Regions from separate parts of the Homo sapiens genome. Here region 2 is linked to region 1. The links come from fine-mapping of genetic effects on gene expression. A gene starts in region 1. The other region holds a variant in brackets. All regions are shown on one strand. Distances are from middle to middle.

The links.
Region 2: its variant is fine-mapped to the expression of LINC02970 in left ventricle (GTEx, PIP above 0.99).

The regions. Positions count from the first base shown.
Region 1 is chr20:62,595,374-62,610,353 of GRCh38, forward strand. LINC02970 (long intergenic non-protein coding RNA 2970) reads right to left here and starts at 8,068. Exons shown (of 2, transcript NR_184037.1): 1 at 7,605-8,068; 2 at 1-1,845. RefSeq lists enhancers at 8,279-9,068, 9,069-9,859, 9,860-10,649 and a silencer at 8,387-8,536.
Region 2 is chr20:62,561,308-62,576,287 of GRCh38, forward strand. It overlaps MIR1-1HG (MIR1-1 host gene), which reads left to right. Exons shown (of 4, transcript NR_171007.1): 3 at 3,682-3,793; 4 at 9,137-9,457. MIR133A2 (microRNA 133a-2) reads left to right here and starts at 3,605; the gene lies at 3,605-3,706. It also overlaps the pseudogene RPL7P3. RefSeq lists enhancers at 1-332, 333-851, 852-1,369, 7,997-8,498, 10,801-10,930 and 2 more and a silencer at 10,521-10,610. The variant A/AGT (reference allele first, on the strand shown) is at 7,889.

The sequences.
Region 1 (14,980 bases):
CAATTTTGTCAAGAATACAGCAAAAGCAATGCTGATGGAGTTTCCTGGTGTCCGTGTGCCCGTTGCTGGCGATGCTGACTTTGATCTGGGGTTTGGTGGTGTCTGCTCCCGTTGACTTTGATGACGGTTCCCACCAGGATTCTGCGGCTGAGTTGGAATTCTATGGTAAGGAAAAGCTGTCTCTCCCCAATGCCTGTTTATTTATTTACGTCAGTACGGACTTGTAGATTCTTCTTCTATGGGTTATGTTTAACATCTCATCAATATCTTCCCCCACATTGTTCAGATTTGCCCAGTGGACTCCTCCCCGTGGGATCCGATGTCACGTGGGCGTGTCCTGCCTGTGTTGGCTGCGAGCGTTTCCTCCTGACTCACACCCAGTAGAGCTGCAGCCTCCACTGGGCGAGGCGGCCTTGGAAAAGGAGGCGGGTGCTGTCCTGCTGTGGAGGGGCTGGCGGGAGGTGGGTTCTGCAGGGTCAGTCCCGGGAGGTGCAGCTGTGGAGGGGCTGCTGACCCCCAGGATCCCCGAGGCCGCCTGCTCCCGAGAGGCCGCCCCACACGCCAGCCTCAGCGTCGGGAGAGGAAGCCCCACATGCCAGCCTCAAGGTCAGGAGAGGAAGCCCCACATGCCAGCCTCAAGGTCGGGAGAGGGCGCCCCACATGCCAGCCTCAGCGTCGGGAGAGGAAGCCCCACATGCCAGCCTCAAGGTTGGGAGAGGAAGCCCCACACGCCAGCCTCAGCGTCGGGAGAGGAAGCCCCACATGCCAGCCTCAAGGTCGGGAGAGACCGCCCCACATGCCAGCCTCAGCACCAGGAGAGGCCGCCCCACACACCAGCCTCAGCGTCGGGAGAGGAAGCCCCACACGCCAGCCTCAGCGTCGGGAGAGGAAGCCCCACACGCCAGCCTCAGCGTCGGGAGAAGCAGCCCCACACGCCAGCCTCAGTGTCGGGAGAGGAAGCCCCCACACGCCAGCCTCAGCACTGGGAGAGGCAGCCCCACACACCAGCCTCAGCGTCAGGCTCTGAGTCCCGTTTCTGCCTCTGGGCTCCTCGTATGTGTGTGTCAGCATCAGATGCAAAGAAAGGGGACGTATCCTGGTGGGGGGACCCGGAGTCTCCGTTGCCCCCACAGATCAGTCTCTGGGTGCCTCCCTTGGTGCTGAGAGCAGGGAGGGCCTGAGAGCCATCCCGAGCCCGTCTCGGTTCACGCTTCCCTGCCTGGCAGGACCCAGGGAGAGCTGGGCGGGTGGGGCAGCCACTCCCGGCAGTTCCGAGAGGATCTGGAGGAAACGTGCCTTACTGCAAGGAGATGGCTGGCTAGCGGTGGAGCCCTGGGCGCCCTCAGGGGAGAGCCTTCCGGGGACAGCTGCCACCCTTCTGTGGTGCCGGCCTCCTTCCCGCCATGCACCATGCCCACGGCACCCAGATGGTGGAGCCGCCGCCGGTTCACACTCTGGGGAGTTTTCCCAGCAACAGGTCCCTCCAGCCAGGGCATGCAGGAAAGTGCCCTTACGACGTGCTCAGGGATACAGCCACTGCTCCCAAACGTCTCTGCCCAGAAAGGCAGGTGGGATGTTGACCATAGACACAATAACCAACGCTTGCTGTCGTGGGGCCTGTTTGACAGAGGGACAATGGAGGCCAGAGAGGCAAAGGTGACTTGTCCAAAATCACCCAGCCAGGGCCATTAGCCACCTGCTCAGCACTGCAGCTTTTGTGCCAGGGACCTGCAGACACTCACTCACACTCATGGAGCCAGGAGGACCAATCCATGAGCACAGGGCACCTCGGAGTCCCGGGCGGGCATTCTCCGGCGTCCTTCTTCTGAAGCTTCTGAAAAGTTGCTGAGAAAGACAGAGAGGGTGACAAGAAGAGGACAGGTGTGAGACCCTGCAGAACTGGGTTCCACGTGCCAGCAGGACCCAGAGACCACGGCACTCCCTTCTCCCTACTAACTGGAGACTCCGAGAGGAGTTCTAGACATGGCAAGACGAAACAAGTCCGTATCCCTTCTTTCCCAGAATCGAGAAAAATGACCGCATTTGTCAGCAGAGCATGCACTAGGCGAGCCCTGCCTTGCTGTTTAATTCATCCCAATGCTCCTTCCGAAGGGGCCCTCAGAGGATGCTTCCAAAGCCTGGCATAGGCGAAGCTCAGGACCCTGCACCAGGAGGTCCCACCCCGGAGCCCGGATCACTCCGGGAATCACAGCTTTCGGGAGGAGCACCTTGCTACCGAGCCTTTGGGGTCCTGCCCGGGCCAGCCCTTCTGCTTAGGGACCTGCAGTGACCCTGTGCTGGGTCATGTTCTTCTTGGCACAATGAGCACTCCCTGGGCAGGTGGTCCTGGCCCCTGGGAGCTCGGGGATAGAAACACAGAAGAGGTGTGGTCGGTGCATCTCTCAGATGACTCCACTTAGAGTAGTGTCCCCTGCCTCCAGCTTCCACCAGAGTGTGCCTTGGTGGAGACAGTTGCCAGCATGGAGGGGGCATGACCAGCCTGGGCCACTGCCAGCCTTGCTCAGCTGACAGCTGCTGCATGACCTTTGGCATGGCCTGTGGTCTCCCTAGGCCTCCCCATCTGTTGAACAAGAAGTGATCTGGACCAGAGACAAGCTGGCAGCCACGGCTGGGCAGCACCCACAGGCATGTGCGTCTTAGGGCTGTGCAGTGCTGTTGAAAGTTTGCCGTACACTGCTGGGGGGGATGGAAGATGGTTCGGCCACTCTGTAAAACTGTCCTGCAGGTTCTTAAGCTAGACACACCCCTACCAGAGACTCAGCCGTTCCACTCCTAGGAATTCTTCCCAGAGGGATGAAAACGCGTTCACACAAGGACTTATGCATGACTGTCCATAGCAGTTTTATTTGTGATAGCAAAAACCTGGGGGAAAAACCAAAATGTCTACCAACAAGTGATTGGATGAACAAATCATGGTGCATCCATACAACGCAGAAATAAAAAGGAGTGGAATTTTGAAACACATGACAAAATCAAACGTGAAAATAATTATGCTGCGTGAAAGAAGGCGTGTATACATGTGACTTCGTTCATATGGAATTCTGCAAAATGCAGTTGTCTGTAGTGACATCGGTGGTTCCTGGGGACAGGGGTGGGAGGACACAGGCAGGAGGACATGCTGTGGGTGACGAGGTTCACCGTGGACCATGGGAAGGGTTTCGTGGGTGTGCACATAGGTCGAAGCTTTCCAAATCATCACTTTTACATGTGCAGTTGATTGTGTCAAATAATCCTCAGTAGAGCTGGTCAAGATAGTTGAAACTATATTCAAAACTGGGAAACTGAACATAATGACCCCAATTGCACATTTCTGTTGGAAAATTAGAAGTTCTGGTAACACTAGGCCTGTATTCAGGTGTGGTGTGGGGAGTGGGGTGTGGCTTCCAAGGGCTGGGCGTGGCTGTGTTGGGTTGGGCGTGGCTGGGCTGGACACGGCTGAGCTGGGCTGGGCGTGGCTAGGCTGGGCTGGGTTGGGTGTGGTTGGTCATGGCTATGTTGGGCTGGGTGTGGCTGGGTGTGGTGTGGCGTGGCTGGACTGGGCATGGCTGCACTCAGCTGTGTTGGGCTGGATGTGACTGGGCGTGGTGTGGCGTGGCTGGGCTGTGCGTGGCTGCACTCAGCTGTGTTGGGCTTGGCTACTGCCCTCTGCACAGGCCTCACCGCTCCTCACTGTCCACGCGCTCTGTGGTCCAGCATCATTTCTGGTCTCGTTGGCTCTGCGGATTGTGTCCCTTATGCCTGGCCAGCTGCCTTCATCAAGGGTGACTGCCTGGTGCCTGCACAAGTTTGAGTTTGATGGACTTAAATGAATTTCACACTTTTAGTCACTGAAACTTTGGCCAACCTCCATCTTCCTACAGAAGCTCCAAGCATGAAAAACACAAATGTGGAGTTACGGTGTCTAAAGCGCTGTCAGCCCTTCCAGCCCTGCACACTCCCTCCTTCTCCTCCCGGGGTGGCCACGAGGCAGCTCTAGGGTTTGCACATCAGAGTAGTGCTGGGTGTCCTTCCCCTCCCTTGCCCTGGCAGTTCCAGGCCCTGTGCCAGGACCACACACCTCCCACACAGGTCCTCTCATGGGGCTGGTGCCCCCGAGCACACGATCCCCTCTCCCTGATCCCAGGCTCCTCTGTCATGGGAGGGGTGCGAGTTCTTGGAGGCCGAGAGTGTGGCCTGCCCAGGACCACTGGGAAAATGCAGGGTGAACTGTGGGTCTGGGTGACTCTCATGAGCCCCTCCTCCATCCCCCACAGCCCCTAAAGAGTGGGACGGTCTCAGGACCGCGTCCCGGGGTGAATCGTGCTCCTGAAATGGGGACTGTGGTGCACAGTCACATCATCCCTTCACACGGCGGCCACCAGGACACCTTCAGGGCACTTCCGGTGGCAGGAAACATCCCCAGGCCTGACTGCGCCTGAGGACGGTGATGCCATGGACCAGGAGCGCTTCCCGGAGCGGGAGCAGGCGCTCGCTGGCTGGAGCTCCCCCACTGTGTCTGACGCCTCATTCCCTGGATGTTCAGGGTTCCGGTGCTCAGCAAGAACCTGTCCGGACACGCTGGGGAGCAATGCCCCCACAGAACATCGGGGGCCAGCTGGACCATGGCACGTGCCAGACACTGCACCCCAGCAGCGGTGCATGCTTCTCCAGGGCACGCAGAGCAGTGACCAAGGCCGACCGCGCTGGGTCCCAGCACAAGTCTCAGTAGATCTTAAAAGACTCAAGTCGTGCAGAGAACAAAGTAAGAATAATCTCAAGATTTGTTGAGACTTGTGTTCCTTGACTATCCCAGAATTAGAATGAAAGGAGAACCCAATACAGAACATCCTGAAACATTAAGCAACTCAATTCTAAATAACTCGTGAGCGACCGGCGTCGTGGCTCACGCCTGTAATCCCAGCACTTTGGGAGGCTGAGGCAGGCAGATCACTTGAGGTTAGGAGTTTGAGACCAGCCTGACCAACATGGTGAAATCCCGTCTCTACTAAAAATACAAAAATTAGCTGGTCATGGTGGCCCACACCTGTAATCCCAGCTACTCGGGAGGCTGAGGCACAAGAATCATTTGAACCCAGGAGGCAGAGGTTGCAGTGAGCCGAGATTGTGCCACTGCACTCCAGCCAGGCTGACAGAGCAAGACTCCATCTCAAAAAAACCAAAAGAACTCATGAGTTGTTTAGAAGTTGTTAATTAAAACAACATATCAACAGAGGAGGTGACCTGGTATTTTTAAAATGTAACTTTCATTGTTATTCAGGTAGGGTGAGGCCCACAGGTCAGGAGACAACCACCATCAAAAAGATGATTTGTCACGGGTCCCAAGAGGACAGAGCTGGCCGCATCACCACGGTGAAGGGGCACAGGGCAAGCACCAGGTAGGCCAGGAGGCAGAGGGTGCGAGGAACGTGGTGTGGGAAGGACCAGGCCAGGGGGTGGACAGGTGGAGAACTGGCTGGTTGCATTAATGCCAGCTGGTCTGGGTGTAGCTCCTGGCCCTGGGGTGATTAGGGCAGGGGGACGTTGGCCCAGAGTGTGGCCCAGTTGGGGAGCGGTTGGGGTGTGGGCTCTGGAATCCTTGATTTGCTTATGAAGGGTGATCTTGCTGGGAAGCCCTTGGAGGGGGAGCCCCTCCTGGGTCACCCCAGATGTCAAAGCGCAGAAGCACAGGGTTAATGCAGAGGTAATTAGACACTATTTTGAATTCAATGGAAATTAAAACAACATATCAACATTTGTGGGATGCAGATTGACTGGTGTTTAGGATAGATTTTACAGCAGTAATTGCTGAAACGATAAAAAAGGAAGAGATCACAAATCACTCTAAGCCAAGAGCCAGCAAGCTACAGCCCACCGGCCATGTCTGGCCCCTTCTTGCTGTTGAAAATAAAGTTATGCTGGAGAACAACTTGGTATTTTATGTGTTTTCTGTTGCTGCTTTCACGCTACAACAGCAGTTGAGTGGTTGCAACAGACACCACGTGGCTCACAAAACCAAACATATTTACTCTCTAGCCCTTTACAGAAAACCCTTGCCAACTATGATAGGAGCTTTCACCTGGAGAAACTAGTAAGGGAAAAATAAATTACAAAACGCATGCGGAAAGTAGAAGGTAATAAAGATCAGGGTGGAAATCAGCTGAACAAAAAACAAAAACAGAAAATAGAGAAAATAAATGAAACCCAAGCTGATTCTTTGAAAAGATCAATACAATTGATAAGCTGCTGGCCAGACTGACCCCAAAACAAAGAGACCCTCATTACAAACATGGAGGCTAAAAAGGACATCACCGCAGACCCTACAGATGGGAAAAAAGAGTCGAGGGGGATGGTGTCCAATCTTCTGCCCATATATTCCACAACTTGGAAGAAATGAACAAACACCTTGCAAGGAGAAACCTTTCCTTTCATGCATTAAAGACATCGTTCTGCTGTCTCCTGGCTGCCGTGGTTTCTGGCAAGAATTCTGTAGTCACTGGAGTCACTGCTTTTGTGTACGAAATGTGTTGTTTTTCTCTAGCTGCTTTCCAGATGTTTTCTTCAGTTTTCAGCAATTTGATGATGCTATGTCTGGGTCTATTTTCCTTTCTGTTTATCTTCTTTGGGGTTCACTGAGCTTCTTGAATGCTTACATTTATGTATTTCACCAGACTTGGGATGTTTCAGCCAATATTCCTTCAAATAACTTTCTGCCCCAACCTCCTCCTTGCTTTCTGGAACCAGGTATGTGCTGGGCCTTTCGATACGACCCCAGCTGGCCCGTGATGCTTGTTCTTGTTTTTCCTCTTTATCTTCGTTCTTCGGAGTGGATATTTTCTATTTATCTGTCTTCACGTTCGCTGGCTTTCCTTTGTCTCCATTCTGCTATTGAGTCCATCAGTACAATTTTAATTGCAGATACTCTATTCTTTTAGTTCAAAAATACTCATTTGTTTATTTTTTTTCCTACCTCTCTGTGAGGTTTATTATTCATTTCATCTAATGCTCCTTTCTGAGGTGTGTGTGCGTGTGCTGTGTATGCGTGCAACTCGCAAAGCAGTTACCGCGGCTGCTGTAGGCATCTGTGTCAGTTGGGGCTGGCATCTGAGCATTGTCTGTTCTCTTGAGGATGATCACACCTTCCTAGTTTTGTGTCTATTGAGTAATTTTGTTTTACGTCTGAGCACACCGTGTGGACTCTGGGTGCTGTCCTAGCCCTCGGGGAACGTTGCTGTTTCCACTTTAGCAGCCAGGTTCATCCCAAACCCCACCTCTCTCAGTGTGGTTCTCAAGACCTTTGCTGGGTTGGCACTGCTGGGTGGCACTGTGAGACTTATGCGGATTCATGCACAGAATTAGGCAATTGCCGTGTCCAGCCCTCCCCCTTCCGGGGTTCCGCCCCCTCTCTTCCCTGGCTCTCCCCCTTCTAGGGTTCCGCCCCCTCTTTTCCCCTGCTCTCCTCCTTCCAGGGTTCTGCCCCCTCTCTTCCCCCACTCTCCCCCTTCTGGGGTTCTGCCCCCTCTCTTCCCCGGCTCTCCCCCTTCCAGGGTTCCACCCCTCTCTTCTTCCCCGGCTCTCCCCATTCTGGGGTTCCACCCCTTTCTTACCTGTAGGACTCCTTTTCCCAGGTTGGGGTTTCTATCTGCGTTTTAGCTGCTTGTGTTGCCATGTGGATCTGAGAGTGGGGCTTGCCCTCCAGACAAAGCCACAAGGAGGAAACCAGAAACTCCACGGCAGGTCACTCCTCCAAGTTCCGCCTCCGCCCTGCAGTCTCCTTACTTTGCAGGTCCTCAGTAGTTGTCTGTGTCTCATCCAGAGCTTGGTCACAGTTAGGGGAGGGCTAGGCTAAGCCATAGCAGGCTCGTGGATAAAACGTCACCTCCCTGGCTCTTTCCCAGGATTTCCTGGCAGAGGCCACATTTATAAGCCATGCAGTGTAGTCACCTGCTGTGTGCCAGGCAGCAAGCGCCATTAGCCCGGGAGGTGGTGAACAGCTCCTGGGGGCACCAGCCAGCACCGTCACCGTTTGGCAGCGGAGGCTGCGGCCAGCTCCTTGTCAGGTGAATGTGCTGCATGTTGATGCAACACCTTCCTCTTCTTGCCAACCCTGGGCCAATGTCCTCAGACACAGGCAGCAACGGAAGTGGCCACCTGCCCACCATGGCCTGGGGAGAAGGGGGAAGGGTCTGACTGGGGGAGCCTCAAGACTGTGCCACTTGCCCCAATCCCATGAGAGGCACCTGCTATGGCACCTCGAGCTGGGGCAGAAGGCCTGGAGCCCGTGCCTGGATGCTGCCCAGGACTCTCAAGCTAGTCCAGTGGCCTTGGCTGCAAAGTCCTGCTCAGGCCCACGTTTCCCCAGTGCCTTGCCCAGCTCCAGAGGGAAGTGATTGACCGCAGAGCCGATGAGCTCAGAGCCGGTGGTGGGCAGTCTGGCCGGATGGCGGTGACTCAGGGAAGCGGAGGGGCTCCCCCCACCCCGCTGCTGCTGCCCCCCGCGTCCCCCCCGCCTGCAGTAACTGACAGGAAGGGGCGGGAGGCGGATGGGCCGTGACAGCTTAATGGCTTCGGTTAAAGCATCCTCTGATCGTGCTGGCGCTGGGAGAGGCTCTGAGCTCGGGTGGCACTGCGGGCACTCTGGACACTGTCTCCGGCTGCCGCTGAGCTGGGAGGCTCCTTTCCAGCAGGCCACGCGGTCAGGGGCACCTCCTGCCGCAGCACCTGCCCAGCCCTCTGGGGACCAGAGTGAGCAAAGTGCTGGTGCTGGACCTGGCCACCGCCAGAGGCAAACACAGTTGGCCAGACCCAGGCCCCACCTGTTCACGAGATGCCCCATCCCTTGGAGCCTCCAGGAGCCAGGGCAAGTGTGGAGGCAGGTGAGACCCAGCGCCAGCGTTTGCTTCAACCAAAGAACCACAGCAGAGCCGCTGGGGACAGCTTGTTCAGCCAGTGCATAATCAGTACTCAGGATTGTGGCTGGTGCCCCTGGCAGACTCAGCCCTACGGGGATCGGCCCCCAGACGTGCCACAGCTTGGCCACTCTGCTCTGAGGAGCTGTCTGTGCCCAGCACGCGTTCCAGCTTCTGGGATGCACAATAGGCGCCCAGGCCTAGGCTGCGGGACGACCATGCTTGCTGCTCACAGCGCCTGTGAGTCAGAGACTCCGACAGGCCACTTGGGATGGCCCAGGCCTCCTCCCCAAGGTCTGCAGCCTCCTCGGGGAAGCCTTGGGGCCAGAGCCTGGAGACTCCAGAGGGAGTCTCCTACAGACGATGCCGCCATCAGTGGGACCTGCAGCCGGGATCTCGGGCTGGGCCTCTCCGGCAGCCCCACATGTGACATGGGTGGGCTTCCCGAGGCCAGCACTTGAGAGAGAGGTGGAAGCCGAGACGCGGAGCCACCTGGCATCCTTTCCGACAGTCACGAGGCCCTCAGATTCCAGAAGAGGGGACAGAGACCCCTCCATGGGAGCAGCCTTGGTCATGCTAGAGAAGAGCCTGGGGCTGGGAGACCCATGGGGCATCTTTTGAAAATGCCTCCAGTCACTCGTGTGGCCACCCAGCAAGGCCCCGAGTCATGCACAGCCCACCCGTGCATGCCACCTGCCGGGACCTGCCCCATCACCTGCCGGGACCTGCCCCATCACCTGCCGGGACCTGCCCCATCACCTGCCAGGACCTGCCCCATAGCTTTGGAGCCCTGTCTGCTGCAGGGGAGGGAGGCAAGCCCCAGAACAGCCCCGAGTTCTGCTGCAGTCCGGTCAGCCGGGGGCTTCCTGCCCCATTCAGTGTCCCAGGTCTGCATTCAGCAAGGGTTGGATGCTCCACCAACCCTGACCCCCCGGGAGCATACACCTGTGGGAGCAGGTGCACCCCACCTCCATGCACACACAGACACCTCCAAGGTTTTCCTGAGAGACAAGATTTGGCTCAGGACTCGCTGCTCAGAACCTGAAGGTGTAGAAAGTGCACACACTCCTAGCAGAGCCGACCTACTGCTATACCCTCCCAGCCGGTGCCCCAGGTCAGAGCCTGCCCCTTCCCCCAACCCTCCTGCCTCACCCACACCCCTGTAGCCTTGGGGACCCACAGAAACCACCGCAATGACCTCTTCTAGCAGGCAGGCCTGTGGTGCGCCTGCTGAGCTCAACCCTCCGTGAACTTGGCTGGCCCTTGCCAGGCGCAGCTCAGCCCTGCATCCGCTGGCACTGCCCACCAGACTTGCCCACCTGACCGGGACCGGGAATCTTCCTGTAGCCTCTCTAGGGAAGGTGCACTTTTCTCTAGCATCCTTTCTCTGGCTGATGGAGAGGGAGCTGGGTGAAAGGCAGGGCCTTGGCCAGAGCAGGCCTGATGGGTGGCATGGGGCTGGGGGTGGAGGAAGTTGGGGGAGGAAGTGTCTCTGGAGGTCCAAGGCCTCAGCTGGCCCTGCCCCCTGTAAACAGCCCTATTTTTTAAAAGGCCTCCTTACCCAGCTTCAGGGGTTTAAAGGACACCCCCTTCCCTTGGCCATTCCTGGGGACCCCCCCGACCATCCACAATATTGTACTAGTATCTAAAGCAGCCAGCAAGTCCTGTCTGTCTGGAGAAGGTGAGAGTTTTCAGGGGCTCAGGACGTGCTGAGCTGGGGGGAGCAGGGGGCATGGCTTGACACCTCACAGCGGCTTCCTGAAGCTCAGTGGTGCACAAAGCAGAGCCCACAGGGGAGCCCTCGTAACTCAAGGCCTCCAGGCCATGCTAAATACCCAGAAGCCACTGGTGGGGACCACTGAGGCCATGTGAGCAACACATTTATCATGAACAGCTGTTCCCCGTGTTACTCCAAGACAACACGAACAACTGGGCCGGGCAACCCAGAGAAATGCAAACTCTTCCTCATTCAGAAATAGCAAAGAAAGTTCTCCTTCCAGAAGGGCCCTCCCCACACCTTGTAAAAGCAATTTTAAAAATACAAATAGAGGCTCCTTCCTCATGCCAAGGTTCATTATTAAGGAAGAGAGCAGTTCCAGGCAACGCCTTTATTTAAATATGATGATTAAACTGTTTGGTTTTAATGCAAATGGAAGACACCATCTGAAATTCTGAAAGGAGAAAAAGACGCTGCTGGAGGTGGGAGGAAGGGAGAGGAAGGCAGGAAGGGAGGAGAGGAAGGGGCCAAAGCTGGTGAAATTCCTGGCATCAAGAAACCCCCTGGATGGAGAAAGAGCATGAAAACAGCAAACGGCCGCGAGGCAAACAGCAAACGGCCGCGAGGCAAACAGCAAACGGCCGCGAGGCCGAATGGACCACATTCCAGGCGAGGCGGGGGCAGTGTTCAGCTGTAGCTGCTCCCTGGGGACCCACACCCTGACCCCGTGCTAGGGAGCACTGGGCTGGGGGCCAGCGAAGCACTCTGGCGTGGACGGCAGGCCCATTTTTAACGGTGCTATTTCATTAGCAGTTTTACTCAGCTGCTGGCAGGGCCCCAGCACGGCTGCCTCTGTGGCTAGAGGGGTGCAGGGGGTGCTGGGCTCCAGGCCAGGCAGTGCCCATTTCCACAGAGCCAGTGCCCCCACACAGCCACATGCAGCAGCTTCCTTGCTACACCACGGGGCCTCCCTGGGGACTCTGCACCTGCAGCGCACACACTGTCCCCACCTGGCCCTGCCCACGGGGCTGCTGCAGAGGCGGGCTGCCAGCTCTCGCTCCCTGGGGAATCTGGAATCCCAAACTGGGAGACGGGGCGGGGGCGGGGCGATAATATCTGCACCAGCTGCGAAGATCAAAGCACCTGTGCACGAATGGCTGACCCAGAGTCTGGCCCCCTCATATGTGACCCACGCCCCGTGAAGGCTGCACCTGGAAACCTCTTTGCCACGTCGCCATCGTGGGCTAGTCTCGAGCTGCGCCCCAGCCAGAATCCTATGTATTTGCAAACTGAGGACAGAGAGGGTCAGCTGTGTGTCCACCACTGTCCACACCGATTTTAGATAATTTGGTTTCCTCTTTAAATAGCGTTTAAGGGAACGAGCAAACTGTCACCTCCTGAAACAAGTTTCCAATAGATTAAAGTGGGTCTTGTCTATATAGCACGCTCTGAAATGATCCTTGCCCATGTTGCCGATTAAATGCTTATGTGCTCACTGTCTCTTGGCCCCCAAATATAGGGCCTGCCTTAAACCTTCAAACCAAGGCGGCAGTGCCTTCGTGTTAGAGTCCACTTCTTTTTATTGCCTCTTGCCTAGAAAATTATCGCAGGGGTGCACATGCTGCATCTCCCACGAACAGTTGTCTGAGGCTGGGCTAATAGAATGTCTCATAAACCTCGAAAAGATGTTTCAAGAACACCTCCTCCTCTTGGGGCCATTCCCAGCCGAGTTCCAGAATCCTCAGGCCAGCAGGGAGATGGTGTCTGTTGGGACACTGCGGAGGGACCCCTTGTTGAGGTGGTGGCCCCAGTCCTGCCTTGGGGACCCAGCCCTGCCCTGTTCCATCCCTCTGTGTTCCGGATGAGGCTGCCCAGCTGCAGTGAATGGTCGGGGGTCGGGCCCGTGACCCGGTGAGGCGGGCGAGTCCATGCCTGGAAGTGAGGAGTAGGCTCGGTTCTTTCCAGTCCTGCTGCTTGCTGTCCTGCTGCTGCTGTCCTGGCACTGGGAGAGGCCAGCCTGCAAGGACAAGGCAAACTAGATGGGACCCTTCGGAGAAATCAGGCCATGGCAACACCTTTCTAATCTTAAGTCCTTGGCCAGCTACCATGCCCTGGAGACCTGCCGGTGTTCGGGTTCCATGGGGGGCAGCATGGCCATGCAGGGGACCCTCAGGAGGCTCCCACCAGGCAGCTGAAAAGGCACAACACTGGGAAGACCCAGGGCCATTCCACCAGGGTCCTGACCAGTCCTCAAAACCGCCAAGGTCATGAAAAACAAGGCGAGTCTGAGAAACCCACAGCCTAGAGGAGCCCACGGAGTGAGGAGCAAATGTTTCCTGGGGTCCTGGACGGGGCCCTGGGACAGGAGGGCGTCAGGGAAGTGCAGCATCCGGCTCCTTGCCGTGGACAATGCTGGCACTCTGGCCGTGACCAATGTCGCCTGTGACGTGAGACCTTAGCACCCCGGGGGGCTGGGCGTGGGTGTGTGGCGCTCTCTGAACTATCTTTGCAACTGTCTCGTAAATTTAAAACAATTTATTTATTTATTTATTTATTTTGAGATGGAGTTTCACTCTTGTAGCCCAGGCTGGAGTGCAATGGCACGATCTCAGCTCACTGCAACCTCCGCCTCCCGGGTTCAAGTGATTCTCCTGCCTCAGCCTCCCGAGTAGCTGGGATTACAGGCGCTCACCACCACGCCCAGCTAATTTTTGTATTTTTAGTAGAGATGGGGTTTCACCATGTTGGCCAGTGTGGTCTCAAACTCCTGACCTCAGGTGATCCACCCGCCTCAGACTCCCAAAGTGCTGAGATTACAGGCGTGAGCCACTGCACCTGGCTTTTTTTTCTCTTTTTCTTTTCTTTTTTTTTTTTTTTTGAGACAGAGTCTCGCTCTGTCACCCAGGCTGGAGTGCAGTGGTGTGATCTCGGCTCACTGCAACCTCTGCCTCCCGGGTTCAAGCGATTCTCTTGCCTCAGCCTCCTGAGTAGTACCCGGCTAATTTTTGTATTTTTAGTAGAGACGGGGTTTCACCATGTTGGTCAGGTGGTCTCAAACTCCTGACCTCAAGTGATCCGCCCACCTCAGCCTCCCAAAGTGCTAGGATTACAGGCATGAGCCACCATGCCCGGCCTAAAACAATTCTTTAAAAAAAGTATTTTAAAAAGAGGAAAATAAAACACAATTTGAACATTCATTGAGGAAAATAATGTTTTTTCAGAAACGAACTGCACTTTAATTTAATTTACTTGTTCACATTTTGGTCAGAACCCTGGAAGGAGATGAGGAAGCAGGTTTGACAGGCACGTGGCCACCGTGCCTGGGTTCCATGGTTTTATTAGAGAGCCAAGAGCAGTTGATGGCAATGATGAAGTCCCAGAGTGGAAAATGCCCCGCCCAGCCCTGGGTTTAACTGGCCTGCTGGCTGAGTGGACGCTGGTGTTTTTGCGCGGGCAGCAAGGGCTCAGAATCCCCATGTAAGACCCCGCAGCCATGATGAAGATGAGCTTTTTAAAAGTCAGAGGCTCCTGGCAGCTGCTGTGTGGGAGTGACATGGGGGAGGATGTGTGTGACATCAGGGACACCCCCAGCCCTGGCTTTGAGCAATAATGCTGGCAAGCCTGGGTGCAGATACGGGATTGGGAGAAACCAAGGCCTTGAACCGCTGACGGACTTGGTGGGGGAGACGCTGAGCAACAAGGAGCTGCCCACTGTGGAGGCAATGTTCCCATCCCGCAGGGGACAACTGTCCCTCTTCTGCCCCACCAGGTACAGAAGAGCCACAGGGGACAGGCAGAGAGGAAATGCAGAGGCTGGGGACTTGGGGGGTGGCATTCCCCACCCCGGGGCATTAAGAGGTCTCTCCAGGTAAACAGAAGCTGGAAGGAGCATGAACTCCCGGCAGGAACAGGCCTGCTGGCGTGAGGGGCCACAGGCCAGCGAGGGGCCCGGGATGCCGGTGCAGCCCCAGTGCCAGGAGGTCCTGTCGTAGGTCCCAGGCCAGCTCCTTCCTCTGTGTGAAGGGAGCCTGGAAATCCCAGAAAGATCTAACAGGATCAGCAGAAAACCAGGATGGAAATGCTGTGGAGGCCGCCTGCTGCCCGCCCTGCTGTGGGGGCCGCCTGCTGTCCGCCCTGCTGGAAGAATGTCCCGGGCTGTGGCTGGCCAGCAACACTGCCCACGGGCCCTGGCAGAGGAGGGAGGCGTGGAGCACCCTGCACCCTCCAAGGCTAAATTCAGAGGCGGCCGCTGAGATTTCTCGAGCTCATCTCCCAAGCACGGCCCTCAGAGTCAGATGACGGGGGCTCAGGGTCAGCATCCTACAGACCCCCAGAATCATCAGGACCCCAGCTGGGG
Region 2 (14,980 bases), 34 kb before region 1:
GTGGCACTCTGTGCCCGGGGTCCCCCTCTGCCCCACCAGATGTCGACCTGGGGACGGCTGCGGCTGCAGGGGAGGGCCCGGCGGTGCGTTTCACACTTGCTCCTACTTCCGCCTTCCAGGGCTGTGGGGCTGCCTCCCCTCTAGGGTCCAGCGCAGGGGCTGGGGCCCTACCAAAGGTAGGAGGGGCTTCCGGGATAAGATGGCAGGCGTGGCTCTGGCCCTCCTGCTCCCCTGTGTCCTCACCCCTCGGGGGTCCGTGGGTGAGGCTGCTGCAGCCGTGAGTCTCAGTGACACTTCCTACCAGGTCTTTATCTACACCACTATTTGCTCCAATTATAACTAATTGGACACGTACTGTATCTTCATGGCATCTAATTTTGTATTGATTTTAACAGGGCTGCCGGTGCTTTCGGCAGAGATTGCCTGCAACTAGTATCCGTCGCTGCTTAAAAATGCTGAGTGTACTTCCCTGTGTGGGACAACTCCATCAGCAGATGTTTTAAAACCTGTTTAATTGTTTGGTTCATAAAGTGCACTAGCGGTAGGAGCTGCAGCCTTGTTCTCTGTAGCACTGGAGTCAAGAGAGGGGCAGGAGGACCCAGAGTGGGTTTTCCGGAGAATCCACATCCCAGGCTCCAACCCCAGTTCTGCTGTCCTGGTGAACGGTAAAGTCACCAGAAACGCCTGGGCCACCTCTCTGCCAGGTCTGGGCACCCAGCCGGGGACACAGAGGGGACCAGCCAGGAGCTGCCCCTCCCTTGGCGAGCTTGCCTTTACTCGGGGGGCGCAGGGACTCCTCACTCGATGAGGAAACCACAGTGGCAGCTGGCCCCAGAGAAGGCCAGGCAGGGCTGGCCCTCCCCTACCCGGAGGCTGCTGGAGCCCTCGGGGCCCGGGGATCTGAGGCCCCAGGAGCTAGGGGCGGTCGCTGTGGTGAGGGGATGGGTCTTGGCAGGAAGGCAGCCCATGCCTGGGAGGCGGGAGGCAGCACAGCTCAGTTTGGGGAAGGCAAGCTCCAAGGCCGGAGAGCGTGGGGTGCGGGGGTCTAGGAAGGGTGAGCTCTGTGAAGCACCTGACCTTTGAGCCATGGGGCCCTTGGGGAGGTTTTGGGGCTTGTGGGGTGTTGGTTTCTTGGCCTTTTTAGAGAGAAAAGAAAAAAATACTTACAAGGAAGTTGAGGAGCCTCAGGGACCTCCCTTGTCAGCCCTCGCCCCATGCTGGTGAGACCCCAGGGTTCAGAGGGGAAGGGGCTAGAGGATCTGCCAGTGAGTGGGAGCTGCTGCCTGAGGGAGCAGAGCAGAACAGGGGGGTGCCCGGGTCCACAGGGGTCCCCGACGTCCTGCCCGAAGGATGGACCTAGTTCCGGCACGTCCCAAGAACACGAATTGTGGGCCTGTTCCTTCACATTTGCAAGAAAAGGTGTTGATCACACCCTTGGCAAAGAATGACTGGGAACCTCCCTAAGCCAGGCCACATTGGGGTGAGGGTACCTGGAGGCTGGCTGCCACCTCATGGGGCAGCATGAAGAGAGAAGGGCCTGGGCCCCGGGGCAGGGGACGCTGCTGTGAGCCCCAGTGTCCTCCTGAGGGGCAGCACAGGACTGGCCTTGAGGTACAGTGGGGTGTATGGGAGAAGACGGTGGCTGTCGGTGCTCAGGGCCGCACCTGGCACTTGGCCGCTCGGTGTCTATTCACAGCTCACGCCCACCACCGTGGCGGCTGCAACGCCAAGCTTGATGCCTCATCCAAGGCCGCAGTGGCCTCCCCGTGGGGGTTTTGCAGCCTGCCCCAGTGCTCTGCTGCCTTTCGGGTGAAATGACCAGTTTGTTTGCTATGTTGATTGGCAAATGCCAGACCTCCCAGCTCCTGATGGGATAGAATCGCGGCTGGGACTCGAATCCCCGGCTTGATCTTGTCAAATCTTCTGCTCCATTAGGAATATTGACAGGCGATAAATGGACAAGTGTGTGCCGGCTTCGAGGTCTTTGAGCCGTCCTCACTCCAGGGCCAGGGAGGGGTGGACTCTGGGAGCCTTGAGGTCTGCCCTGCACCCTCTGTGCTACTGGAGTAAGGAGGAGAGAGGTTTGCAGAGTGTGGGCTGATGGCCCGGAAGCCTCTCTGTTTTGGGGCGCGAGGCTGAGAAGGCTGGGGCCCAGCCCCGACTTATAGGGGACTTTGAGGAGGTGGTCCTCCTACACGGCACAGATCTTTCTGGAGGGCACCGTGGCAGGGACAGTCAGGGAAGGCAGCTACGGACGGGTCAGAGCAGGCCTGGCAGAGGCTGGGGTGGGGGGTCGTCCAGCTCAGTCACTCCCAGAGGGGACTTGGAGCGTGGGCATGGTGCTGTGCGACCGTCCCTTTTGCCTGAGGGGCCTGAGCTTCTGTCCCTGCAATGTCAGGAGGGGGACAGAAAGGCCAGAGGACAGGCAGGCAGGGCAGCCCCAGGTGTGCAACGGGCAGGCAGGTGGCACAGGCCCTAGTGCGCAGCGCCCACTCTGCCAACCTGGTGGGCGAGGAGCAGGTGCGTTCACCTGTGCTGCCCAGGACGGCCTGTGCTCCCGGATAGAAGCTCACACACATGGGTGCCACATCCCCAGCACTGCCGGAGACACTCTCCCTCACCTGTCACGGCTCCTGATGAACGGGGGCTGCAGGGAGACTCATTTTATAAAAGGGAACTTGCTCTCAAGGCACTGAAGGTGACATTGGTGTGGGGGACGCGGGAGCCAGGCAAGAGTGATGTCACGTTCGGACCTCCGTCCTGACACTCCATCCTCACAGTTCCCTTGGGCATGGAAATGCCCCTCAGCAAGATGCGGGCAGGGCTGCAGGTCTGGGGCATGGGGCCCAGGGTCAGGCCACGAAGGCCCCCTCAGGCTGTCCTCCCACCACCATGCAATGTGGACGTCCCTGGAATCTTCCCGTCCTGCCTACCCAGAGATACCATGTGGTGTCAGAGTCCATCCCGTCCCACCCAGGCCATGGCAAGCCAGGCAGGACGGGGTCCTGGGTGGGCTGCCCCATGGTTAGCCAGGGCCCAAGGCTCACTGGGAGGTCTGTCCTGCCTCTGCTCCAGCTATGAGCATGGTCTGGGAGGAGTTTGCAGGGGAATAAGGGCCTCAAACCTGCAAGATCACTGTGCCCACAGATGTGAGCCCCCTGGGGCGGGGCCCGATGGTCTGAGCTGTATCCCACAGCTGAGGCTAGTGCTGGGGGCAGTGGGCACTTGGTGAAGCGAGGGCTGTGGAGGAATCGGGCGGTGACAGGCAGAGAGCAGTGAGTGTCAGTTCCAGAGCATGGAGGCCGCCTGGCACCCCCGACCCTCCCCAGACCCCTGCGGGTCCCCGATGGGGGAGCCCGGGCAGAGCGAGAGGGTGGTGAGTTGCGTGTGAGCGGGTGTGTGTGTCTGTGTATGTCTGAGTGTGTGTGTGTGTTGGGGCGTGTGGCCCTTCACACCAGTCCCTGCAGAGCTTGAGGGAAACTCCACGGGGTGGGGGCCCTCCGGGAGTTGGGGTAAGGGCCTGATGCTGGCCGCGAAGCCCCATCTCCATCGGGACTGCTTGGTGGAGCCGCCTTCTTCACCGACGTCGCTGTTCCTCGGATCTGGGAGCCAAATGCTTTGCTAGAGCTGGTAAAATGGAACCAAATCGACTGTCCAATGGATTTGGTCCCCTTCAACCAGCTGTAGCTGTGCATTGATGGCGCCGTGCGGCCCGGCCGCAGGTCCCGCAGCCGTGGAGAGGACCCAGCAGGTGGCGCGGGGAGAGCCCGGCTCGGCACGTGGTCAGCTCCAAGTAAGTGAAGCCCTGAGTGCCGCCCCCGCCCCCGGAACACTTCAGTGCAGAGCCCGAGACCCTTCCCCCTGAAAGTGGGTGGCTGAGGAACGGGGTCATCCCCACAGCTGGGTGCTCCTGCTTGTTCCTCCTTGCCAGGGCACCATGAAACCAATGTTCATTGCTCACACAAGAGCTTTGCTTGAAAATGTGGGCTTAGGAGCTGGGCCCTGTGGGTTGGGCCTGCCGGGGGCCTGGGCTGGCCCCGCCCTGTCCTCTTCCCAAGGACCCTTCTTCGATTTCTCCTTTAAAATGGCCTGGACTCTAAGGCACCTCCAGGGACCCACAGGGGTGAGCACGGATGCTGCGCTGGTGACCTGTGGGGGTCTGTGTCCTCAGTGGGGAGGCCTGGGCCGGTGGCATCTCTCCAGATGGCCTGAGGGGTGCTGGGCCTGGCAGGGAGACTACCAAACAGGAGCCCCTCAGCATGGCCCGTGGCTGGGGAGGTGCCTGTGAAGGTTGCTGGGGCCCCCAGGGGCTCCCCATCTCCCCACCCTCTTGCGGGAGGCAGTGACGCCCATGTGCAGGGAAGCTGGGCCATCAACGGGCACAGCTGCAGTGAGCAGAGATCTGCAAGGGGGTCTGCAGGCCAGGTGGCACCCAGGACCCATTGTGGGGGTCCCCGACCATGTGCCCTTCCCTTGGCAGGGGCTGGCATGAAGGGGCTCAGGCTGCTGGGCGCCAGCAGATTGGAGGCCTGGGCAGGCACGGGGGCTCCTGCTGGGCATCTCTAGGCCTGGGGTTCCAGGGCCTGTCAGGAGTGACCCCTGACTTCTGCCCAGAGTTGCAGACGTGGGGCCTCCCCTCAGGGGCCACCAGCTGCCGGCCCCAGGGCAGGTGAGGCGAGGGTCAGGACCCTGGGAGGGATGAGCAGAGGGAAGGGGCATGGTAGGCAGAAGGGCAGACACCCCCTGGACTGATGGACGGATAGAAGACCAGGTCTGAAGACAGTGGCCCTGGCTCAGGAAGCCACGGCTCCCTCCTCACACCCTGCCCAGCTTTAGTGCCTCTAATTCCTAGGGTCAGCTTAACCCTAACCTTGGCACCGTGTTACCACCCCTCTTCACACAGAGTCGCTATGTCCCCAGATAGTGGGAGTGGCCGAGAGGCTGGGGTAGTGGACGGCAGCCCAGTCTTCAGCACAGGGCTGGGGCTGGAGTTTGAAGACCAGAGTGTGCGGGATCCATGGGCTCTGCTCCCGAAGGGCTGCATGGCCTCAGCCTTTATTCAAGCCTCTCTGAGTGGAGGGCAGAGTGGTCAGCCCCTGCTGGGGGTCCTGGCCAGGCGCCGCCTCCTGGGAGCCTCCGGGGGCTTCCACTGCTGAGCCCTTTACAGGGGGCAGCCGGATGGCCTGGGTGTGGCCGTGCCTTTCAGGGTGGCCTGACCCCAACCCCACCAACCCCAAGCTGTGTGGTGCCGGGGTCTCCTGCCAGGGACATCTGTCCATTGGGTGAGGCCTGGTCCTGTCCTGGAGGGGAGACTTTGGACATCCACGCAGCCGAGGACCTGGTCGGCCTGCCCTCAACCTTCCCTCCTACCTGGAGGGCGGTGAGGTGGCTGGGGTGCAACAGCTTGAGGTCCTCTGTCAAATACATCACCCGGGTGAGGACTCAGGGAACCACTCCCGGGCCTGTGGGAGGGATTTGTGCAAACATCATGCCAAGAACAGTGTCTGTTGTTGACCCAGCACCCGCCAGGGAAGGCTGGAGCCACTGGAGTCCCTTCCAGTGCAGCCTGGGGTTCCTGTTGGTCACCACGCCGGCCGTGAACAGGGACGCCTGCTCCGTGTTGCCCGCCTGGCCCTTCCTCGCCACCCACGGCCCCGCCAGCCCGACCCTCTGGCACTGACACCTGCTGAGGGCAGTGATGCAGCTGCAGAAAGCCCACAGCTGTGTGGGAGCTGCCCTGCCAGGCAGGGCCTCGGGGTACCGAGGAGGGTGGCAGGAACGGAGGGGAATGAAGGCTCCGTCCCAGCCAGCCGAGAGCCAGGGCCTCCTGCTCCCGGCCTCCCGTCTCTCCTGTAAATTAAAGGATGAGATGAGGCTAAGACCATCTCCGGTGCTCCACCATGGTCAGGACATCAGCTCCAGATGACTGTAGGACACTGTGGCTGTTTCCTGGCCTACCCACCCGGGGCATCTTCATGGGGTCCCCAGTAAAAACCACTGCACCCGCCTTGCCATCCCCAGGACGGGGCCTCGTCCACTGAAATCACAGTGCAGCCCGGCACAAGGCCACGCACAGTGTGGACAGACAGGGCATGTGGATGGAGATGAGGGAACACTTGGAAGCAGCCCCCATGCCTGGCGGGCCAAGCACGAGGGGCCACACGGGCGCTGACCCTAAGCAGCCCCAGGCAATGCATGACCGCGGCCGGGTGTCCCAGTGAAACTTTATTGGCGGACGCGGGAATTTGAATACGTATCATTTTCATGGGTCACAAAATGGGTCTTTTGATTTTTTCCTCCTAGTCGTTAAAAAGGTGAACGCTGTCCTGAGCTCTCGGGGCTGTCTGAAAGCAGGTGGCAGGGGGGATTTGGCCCTGGTTGCAGCTGCCACCTCCAGGCTAGATTAAGAGGATACATGAGCAACAGGTGCTGGGCACACAGGGCCGGGGACACAGGGTCACCGAGGGCGGCACTGCTCCTCCCAGCTCCTTGCTGCATGTTTGGTCAGTGTGCAGGTGGAGGCCCCAGGGCAGCCCTAGTGTTCACAGTGGTGGGACCGCTATGAACAGCCCCAGCCTGCCCAGCAGGAGAGAAAAACCAGGAGGAGGCAGCTGGGGCAGGACAGAGCCTGGAGCCTCCAGGTTTGGGGTGGGGCTGTCTCATGCCACATCCCCTGCTCCCCCCCGCAGCCTCTTGGCTTTGGGCTGAACTTGCCCCCAGCAGATGCCCATCTCTGGAGCAGGTGCCCACTGGGAACAGGGCCCAGCCAAGCCAAGGCTACTCCCCAGGGTCAAGGAAGTGGGGTCAGGGATGGGACACAGCCCACTGGAGGACCGCAGTTTCGGATCCCAGGATCCCAGCAACCTCGGGTTGGGGTGCACGGGAGCCAGCTCTGCCAGGCTGGGCATGCTGCGGAGTGCCTGGGCATCAGAGAGGGTGAGGAGCTCACCACAGTCACACAGCCAGCCCTGGGCGAGCCCAGAGCAGAATGGGAACACAGGGCTGTCTGCCCCAGGGCTGCGTCTTCCCCTCAGGAATGAGCGGCCCTTGGCTGGACTTGGCTGGACTTGGCTGGGCTGAGTTTGGGACCCTGAGTTTGGGGGCTCCTGCCTTCAGTGCCCGCGCCTGGTCTCCATGCTTTGCTGTGTGTTTAGCTGCGTGGGGGGTCCCTGGAGCATCTTGCCTTAGGGGCTCAAGGGGAGAGGGGGCAGCAGAAGGGGGGCCCATGCTGGGGAACGGGCTTTATGTTTCCTGGCGCTCTGCCATCTGTCTTTTCATCTCCCTGGGAGGGGTGAGAATGTGGACCTGAGTGAGCAGTGGACATTGCCAGCTCAGTGACCGAGAGGATGGGTCTAAGTGTCCGGTGCTGTGGGAAAGCCTCTCCCCACCAGGTGCAAAGGTGACAGGAGTTGGCCCATCCCAACCTCGGCTGAGGATCTGCAGATCCTGGGTCCTGTATCACTGTAAGACAAGTCCAAGAGCTCATTAGAAATGCAGATTCCAGGCCCCGTACCCACCCCTACCCCAGTCAGAGCCTCCAGAGCAAGGGCCTGGGAACCTGAATTTTTACCGAGTGTGTTTGGTGAGTCTTATGAACAAGCCACATCAACCTGGTCCTCTTGATGCCTGCTGGCCCCGCACCTGCCCTGCGTACACCTTGCTCAGGTCCCCTCCCTCTCCTCCCTACCCCTCAGCGGGCCATCTCCTCTGGAAAGCCCCCCGGCCTCTCAGCAGTACGTCTCTCTCCTCTATACTCTAGCAGCCGCCATCACACTCGGGACCCTGTTGGCTGCAGTGGGTCACTGTGGAATCTCCCCTCTCCCCGCAGCCTTGGGTGGAGGGTGGGAGGTGTGTGCAGTTTCCCAGATGTCAAGGGATGAAGTAACGT[A/AGT]GTGTGTGTGTGTGCGTCTCCTTGTTCTGGGAGAAAGTGGTGTTGACCACAAACAAGCAGAAAGAAGGTTAAATTCTGCGACCCCAAGCAGCCCCTGGTGAGATGCCAGGCACTTCCTTCCAGACTTTTTTTCCATACGTAGCTCAGTTCATCCCCATCCCACCTCCCACCACACACACTAAGGCAGCGGCCACAGGGCTGATAAACAGCCCTTTCTGCAGAGCAGTGCCTGGGCCCCCTCCTGTATCATCAGTGGCTCTGTCCACCTTCCTGCCCGAGGTCCTGGGGTCAATGCAGTGCCAACACGCCATCCATGACCAATGCGAGCAACCTCACTGCTGTCCACAAATGCTCCTGTGCCAAGCCCTGGGCACAACGTTGTCCAAACTCTGCTGGCTCTGACATGCCTGTGGTTCCATGGCATCACCAAAAACATCCTGACTTCCTTCCTCCTGAGCATGGGATGGAGGCAAAGGCCTGAGCAGCCTCCCGTGGGTCACCCACCACGCCTGCTGCGCCCACCGCACCTGCTGCGCCCACCGCACCTCCTGCACCCACCACACCTGCCGCCCCTGCCGTGGCTCCCGTCCCTCTGCAGGGCCCTACTTCCCTCTCCTCAGCAGCTCGCTCAGGCGCTGTCCATCTCCCACCCCAGCACCCTGTCCCTCCTCAGGTCCTGCTGACCGGGCGGCCTCTGGTCTGCAGCAGGGCACACGGGCCACCAAGCGCTAGGCTGTGGGGTCGCTTGTCGAGGTTGTCTCTCCCAGCCCCTTGCTCCCGTGTCCGTGGCCTGGGACTTCCTCCAGGTGTATTTGTGGAGGAAGCCAGAGAACGGGGGCAGGGTGTGGACAAGCCTCCGAGGGCCTGAACAGGAGGCGGGGTCCCAGGCAGAATGGCCAATGCGGCCTCCCAAGTTTCAGGAACAACCCGTGATCTGGAAGCTTTGGAAACTCTTGAAGACAAGGAGCAATGACCTGGGTTGGACCAAGGATTCCAGATCCCTGCTCTGCTGCCTCCAGTGGGAACACCCACACGCCCTCCCCAGGACCCCTGGGCCGACCACCTGGGTTTGTGTGTTTCAGTCCTGGATCTTGAGCCCTTAGAAGAGACCCTGCTCCCACCCCGGCCACTCCGTCTCCTGCTTCCTCACTTTGTGTCCACTTGTCCCAGCGTGCTGGGGGCGAGGCTGGTGCTCTAGGACAGAATTCTGGTCCTGGCTCCTGCCCTGGGTTTTTTTTTTTCCTGTAGGTCAGCCCTGAAATGTCCATTACTCACAAAGAAAAGGAAAATGCTCATTTGAAAGAAATTCTTCTCTTTGTCAATGCTGAGGCATTCTCTCAGCCCCAGCCCCACAGTGCTCCAGTGTGTGAAGGGCAACAGCTGACGGGGAAGTTCAGCACATCTGTGCTGACCAGGGCTGGAGGCGATGCCAGTCCGTGCAGCTGGGAACGCCTCCTCTGCTATGGCTGGAGCCACTGCTGAAGGGACTCCACCTGGCACCTATGCCACCAATGGCCCCTGAACGGGTATCTAGGCCCACCCTTAATAAAGATGAGCTGCTCATTCCCAGTTTCAGACCTTGTTTATCCTCCCCAGCTCCCCAGTGTGTTCTGGGGGAGATCCCTCCACTGTCAGACAAAAACTTCAGAATGACAGCGGTCATGCCACCGAGCACCAGCAGCATTGGCATGTGCTTCTCCTCGTCAGTGCGCCTCTGGCTCAGTCCAATGCCAAGCACTTACAGCTGGGGAAACACACACAAGCACATACACACCCCATACACTGGCACAGGCTCACATGTGCACACACCCACACATGTGCAAACACACACACGTGCAAACACACACACAGAGGCACATGCACATTCTCACACAGGCACACACAATGCACACATGCACGATGCACACACAGGCACACACGTGCACACCCAGACACATGCTTACACATGCACTTACCTGCACATTCCCACACACGGACATGCAGGCACACCCCTCCACACACACATAAACGCACATGTATGCACAGCTTCTCACAGATACACAAAGCAATGCAGGTACTCATGTATGTATACATGAGTACACATGCATGCACACAGGCACACACATGTGCACAAACATATATATGCACACACCCACACATGCACAACACACACACATAGGCACACATGTGCACACACTCACATGCACACACGCTCCCATCCCCCCACCACACAATCACACAGACGCCTAATGCCTCGCAGCAGGTGAGACCACCCATCAGTAGGATTAGGGGCCAACAGAGGGTTCCGGCAGCAGACGCAGGCAGTTTGGAGAAGGGGCTGGGTGTGAGCTAAGGCAGACAGGGGAGGCTGAGTGAGGGAGGAGGTTGGGTCCCTGAGGTGGGGGAGGGGGATGGGTGGGAGGTGGCTGAGGGAGCTTCCCTGAGAAGCTCAGAATGAGGCAGTCACATGGGGGGTTGTTTGGGCTTTCCCAGGTGAACCCTGTGCTTCCCCCTTCCCTTCCCTCTCCCTCTGTGTTCCCCTCCCCAAAGCTATGGCCCCTCACCACCCCTCTGCCCTGGCACCTCAATGAGACCCTGTGGAAGTTCCTGTAGACAGGAAGTGGGATGGGACCTGTGGGGAGGTGGGGCCTGTGGGGAGGTGGGGCCTGTGAGAAGGCGGGGCCTGTGGGAAGGCGGGGTCTGTGGGAAGGCGGGGTCTGTGGGAAGGTGGGGTCTGTGGGGAGGCGGGGCCTGTGAGAAGGTGGGGCCTGTGGGAAAGTGGGGCCTGTGGGAAGGCGGGGTCTGTGGGGAGGCAGGGCCTGTGGGAAAGTGGGGCCTGTGGGGAGGCAGGGAGCCACGACAGCCTGCCAGCTTTGCCTAACTTTTTATAACAGCTTGATTTTAAAAATGTTTCAAGTCTGTTTCAGTCTGTAGGTCCCTCCTGTTGCTCTCTCTTTTTTTTTTTATAATGTGTCTGCTGAAGGACCAGGTCGTTTGGCCTGGGGTGTGTCATGCATCAGGATTGCTGGTGGCGCCCTCTTGGTGCAGTTCTGCCTGTTCCTCTGTCCTCTGAGCTTCCTGTGTGCTGGTGGCTGGACCCGGAGACTCCTCCCACTCAGGCTGCATCCCTGCAGCAGGAACCCAGGTTCTGTTTTGTCCCCCCATCAGGAGGACACAGGTCAGGGCTGTGCACTCCTGGAATGGTGGCCAGGCTTGCTCTGTGCCTCAAGCCACTAATCCATCAAGGTTGCAAGACGGTGATGTCCTGAGTCTGGAAGTTCTTTTTCACTTATTTGTCGGGATACCTTTATGGAAACTCTTCTCCTCCACGCAGTCTCATCCCCAGTGCCACTGTCCAGAGGAAGCAGGATAAAGGCACAAATCTTCTCCTGCAGCCGCCGCTTTTCAGGAAAATGCACCAGGTCCCCGAAGCCCTCCTGAGGATTGGCTTGCTCGATACCACTGTGCGCGCAGGCCCCTTTCCAGCAGGAACTGTGGACGGCATCGAAGGGAAGAGAAGGTTCCTGCTGCACCAGAAGCCCCTTATGGAGCAGTGAAGGATTTCACAGAACTAAAGATCAGGTGCCTGAGACAGGAGTTTTTAAAAAGATGCTTTGAAAGCCAAGGGGGAAGCTGAGTTATGAGAAAGCTTTGCACCACCGCAAGGAATACAGAGCCCAGAGCTGGGATCCGAGTCACTGTGGCACTGGGACAGAGGCACTTCGTCGTACGCACCTGGGAGCCCAGACTGGCCTGGCCATTGGCAGCAGGGGGTCCCCGGTGTGGGCTTGCAGCTTGTTCACCTTTACTGTGTCTTCAGGGGCACATCTGTCCATCTCAGCAAGGCTTCAGTGAACGTGCCTTCAGGACGTGGAAGCAGACACCGCACTGTGTCGGGGGCCTGAACACGAAGTCGGTAGAGGAGCAGGTCTCCAGGCACGGCTCCGGCAACACCAACAGGAAGCGGGCCACCTTGGAGAGCGCTCTTCCACTGCTGGAGTTCCTGGTCAATACGGCATCGTCTGCGTGGAGGGTCTGATGCATGAGATCTACGCTGCTGGAAAACACTTCAAAGAAGCAGACTACCTCCTGTGGGCTGAAGTTCTCTTCTCCACCAGGTGAAATGAAGAAAAAGCCCACTCGTTTTGTAGAAGGTAGGGGTGCTGGCAGCCAGGAAGACCAGACCAGCAGGCTTTCTAGCAGAATGAACTCAGGTCTACATCATTATTTTTGTAATCTGGTAAGTTAATAAATGGTGACTGCCTTTGAATTTAAAAGAAATATGTATCATTATGGATTCATGAACCGAAACGTGTTTGGTAGGTCTCAGTCCACTGCAATTATTATCATCTTTGCAGCTCAGATCGTCCTGTCTCTGGCCAGGTGTGTCTCATCGGGTGGACCCCACGTCCTGCGTGCTCTCTCAGGGTCAGCTTGGTTGTCATATAATTTACATACAAAAAAAATGCACAGATTTTAAGTGTGAAGTTTGTAGAGTTTTAACAAATGTTGAGTTTTACACTCATGCAACCACCATCACAACCAAGATCTGGAAGATTCCATCAGTTCAAAAACTTCCCTCATATACCTTGGCAGTCATCCCCTTCCTCTGTCCCAGCAATCATGGACTAGCCAGCATGGATCAGATCTGTTTCAGCTGGAACTTTCTAAATGGAATCATGCAGTGTGTGGGCTGTGTGCCTGGCCTCTTTCAACATCATTTTAAGACTCTTCTGCGCTGTTGTGTGTTTCCATAGGTTTTGTTCCTTTTCTTTGCTGAGAAGGGCTCCATTCTATGACGACACCATTGGCCTGCTGATGGGCATTCGAGAGTCTCAGCCTCCACAGGGTGCAGAGGGCAGAGGCAGGGCTGCAGGAGCCACATGGGGCTGGTTGCTGTCACTCCTGCCATGCTGGGTTGGCTGGGGATAGAAACTCAACTCAGAAGATGAATCAACTTGCTTATGTGGCCAAGAGGTCTGAAAATAGGGCTGGATCCAGAACCCAAACCATGTCATCAGAAATCTTTCTCCATAGCTCAGCTCCACTTTCCTTGGGGCTAGCTTCACTCCTGGCAGGCTGTCTGCAGGCGGAGCAAAATGGACACTGAGATTTCAGGCTTATATATCTAATCGGTGGGACAGAGAGGGAGGAGAGAGGGAGAGAGAGAGAGAGAGGTGGAGGGGGAGAGAAAGATGCAGAGAGAGACAGAGAGAAAGAGACAGAGAGTGAGAGACGCACAGACAGAAAGAGACAGAGTGAGAGAAAGAGACAGAGAGGAGGGAAAGAGACAAAGAGAAAGAGAGAGACAGAGGGAAAAAGACACCAAAAGAGCAAGCACGAGAGAGATTCATTTCAAGAAACCCAGCAAAGGTCCCAAGATGGGCACTCGCTGGCCAGGCTTGGGTCACTTGACCACTTGGGGTGGGAGAAAGCCATCCCCTAGAACTACCCAGGCTCCCCGGATTGAAACCAGGGACCTGATAATGAAAGGAGGAGGGACGCTGGGCAGGCAGAGTGAGGCCACCCTGCACCGTTGCCTCCACAGTGTGCTGATGCCAGGCCCCGCGTGAGCGTCTGTCACCCACCGTGCACTGCCCTCCCACCTGGTGGGCCGACTCCCGCAGCCCCGCCGTCTCGATACAGTGGTGGGTGGGTGGTGAGCTGCTTTCCTGTGCTCTGACCTTACTTTATTTCTAAGAGTGAAAACAGAAAGACGTGAGTGCCAACGCCAGCGACAGAAAGCAGGCTCTGTGAACAGCGCAGAGGCAAGGCTGGCACTGCCCAAGCTGCCCGGGGGACAGGCACGTGAGGCAGGTATGGCGCTGTGGACTGCAGACTGGGACGTTTGGGGCCACTTTCCTATAGAGGGTGTATCTTTATAGCAGCTGTAATACACGTTTCCTCATTGGAGGAGAAGACACGCTGGGTGACCATCTGTGTGTCAATGTACACAGTCAATTTTGTACATTTTCCAGGATTGCATTGTGGACACAGTGAAAGAGACCCCTGGGAGAAATGCTGCGTTCAGTGGAGACTGAACCCAGGTGGGGGGCTGGGGGGTGCCTCCTGTGACTCGGGGCAGGTGCCTGACTACCTGGGGTGCTTTCCAAGGAAGGTGGGCAGGGGCATGAGGAGGGCCCCTCCAGGGCCTCCGTACCTAAGTGAAGCTTCGTCAATAAGCTTCTCGGGAGATGGCCAGGGGCAATGAGGGAGACAAAGGGAGCTCCAACTCAAAACCTGAGAGAAAAGCAAATGGCGAATGTGATTTCATAAAAATGTTTCACTGACAAATCACAAGGCTTTTCCTGCTATGGGAACCCCATTCCTCAGCTCTCCCCACCGGAAAAGAACCTGGTGGGGCAGGGTGGGGAGACCCAGTCCCACACGGGAATTTCTGGGTGGAGCGTTTCCATATTTTTCACACCAGCAGGTGGACGCAGCAGTGAGTAAATCATCTGCATCTTTTGGACGTGAGGCTGCACGTGGCACTCTGTGGATAATGCATGCACATCTGCTCATCGCTTCTTTTTTGCAAAGTGCGCCTGTCACCCATAAATCCATCACATCCACGGCCAAAGGCTCCTTCAGAACGAGCCAAATTGCAGTTTCAGGTGTTGGGTCTTCTCTCACAGTCTCTCTTGCACGCACACTGGCTTGTGCACACAGGGACCTCCTGACCGGGCCCGGGGCGGTTGTGGATGTGTAGGGTCTTTCAGGAGAGCAAAGCTGACTTGAGGACAGACAGCAAAGCAGTAGCAGCAAAGCCCCGCAGCCCCTCGGAGAGTTCTTTTCATTCCCGGAACCAAGAGTGGGAGGAAATGGCCCCTAGGAAGTGTCTTATTTTCTCATTTGTTAGACGCCGCTGTCAGCCTGGGAGAGCAGGCACTCTCTGTTGTGAATCAGCCCAGTTGGATGAGCTCATGCTGTGGGGGCTGCAGCCCGCCGCCCCTGCACCCACTCCATTAGCTGCAGGGAGGTGAGCTCCGCGAGGGGCGGGCCAGGGCGCCACATCAGATCACTCCCCTTCACGGAACCCAGTCTAAGTGTGGGATGGCCCTGTCATGGCTCACACCAAATAAAACTGAGTCCAGGACAGCGCTGTGAGCCCTC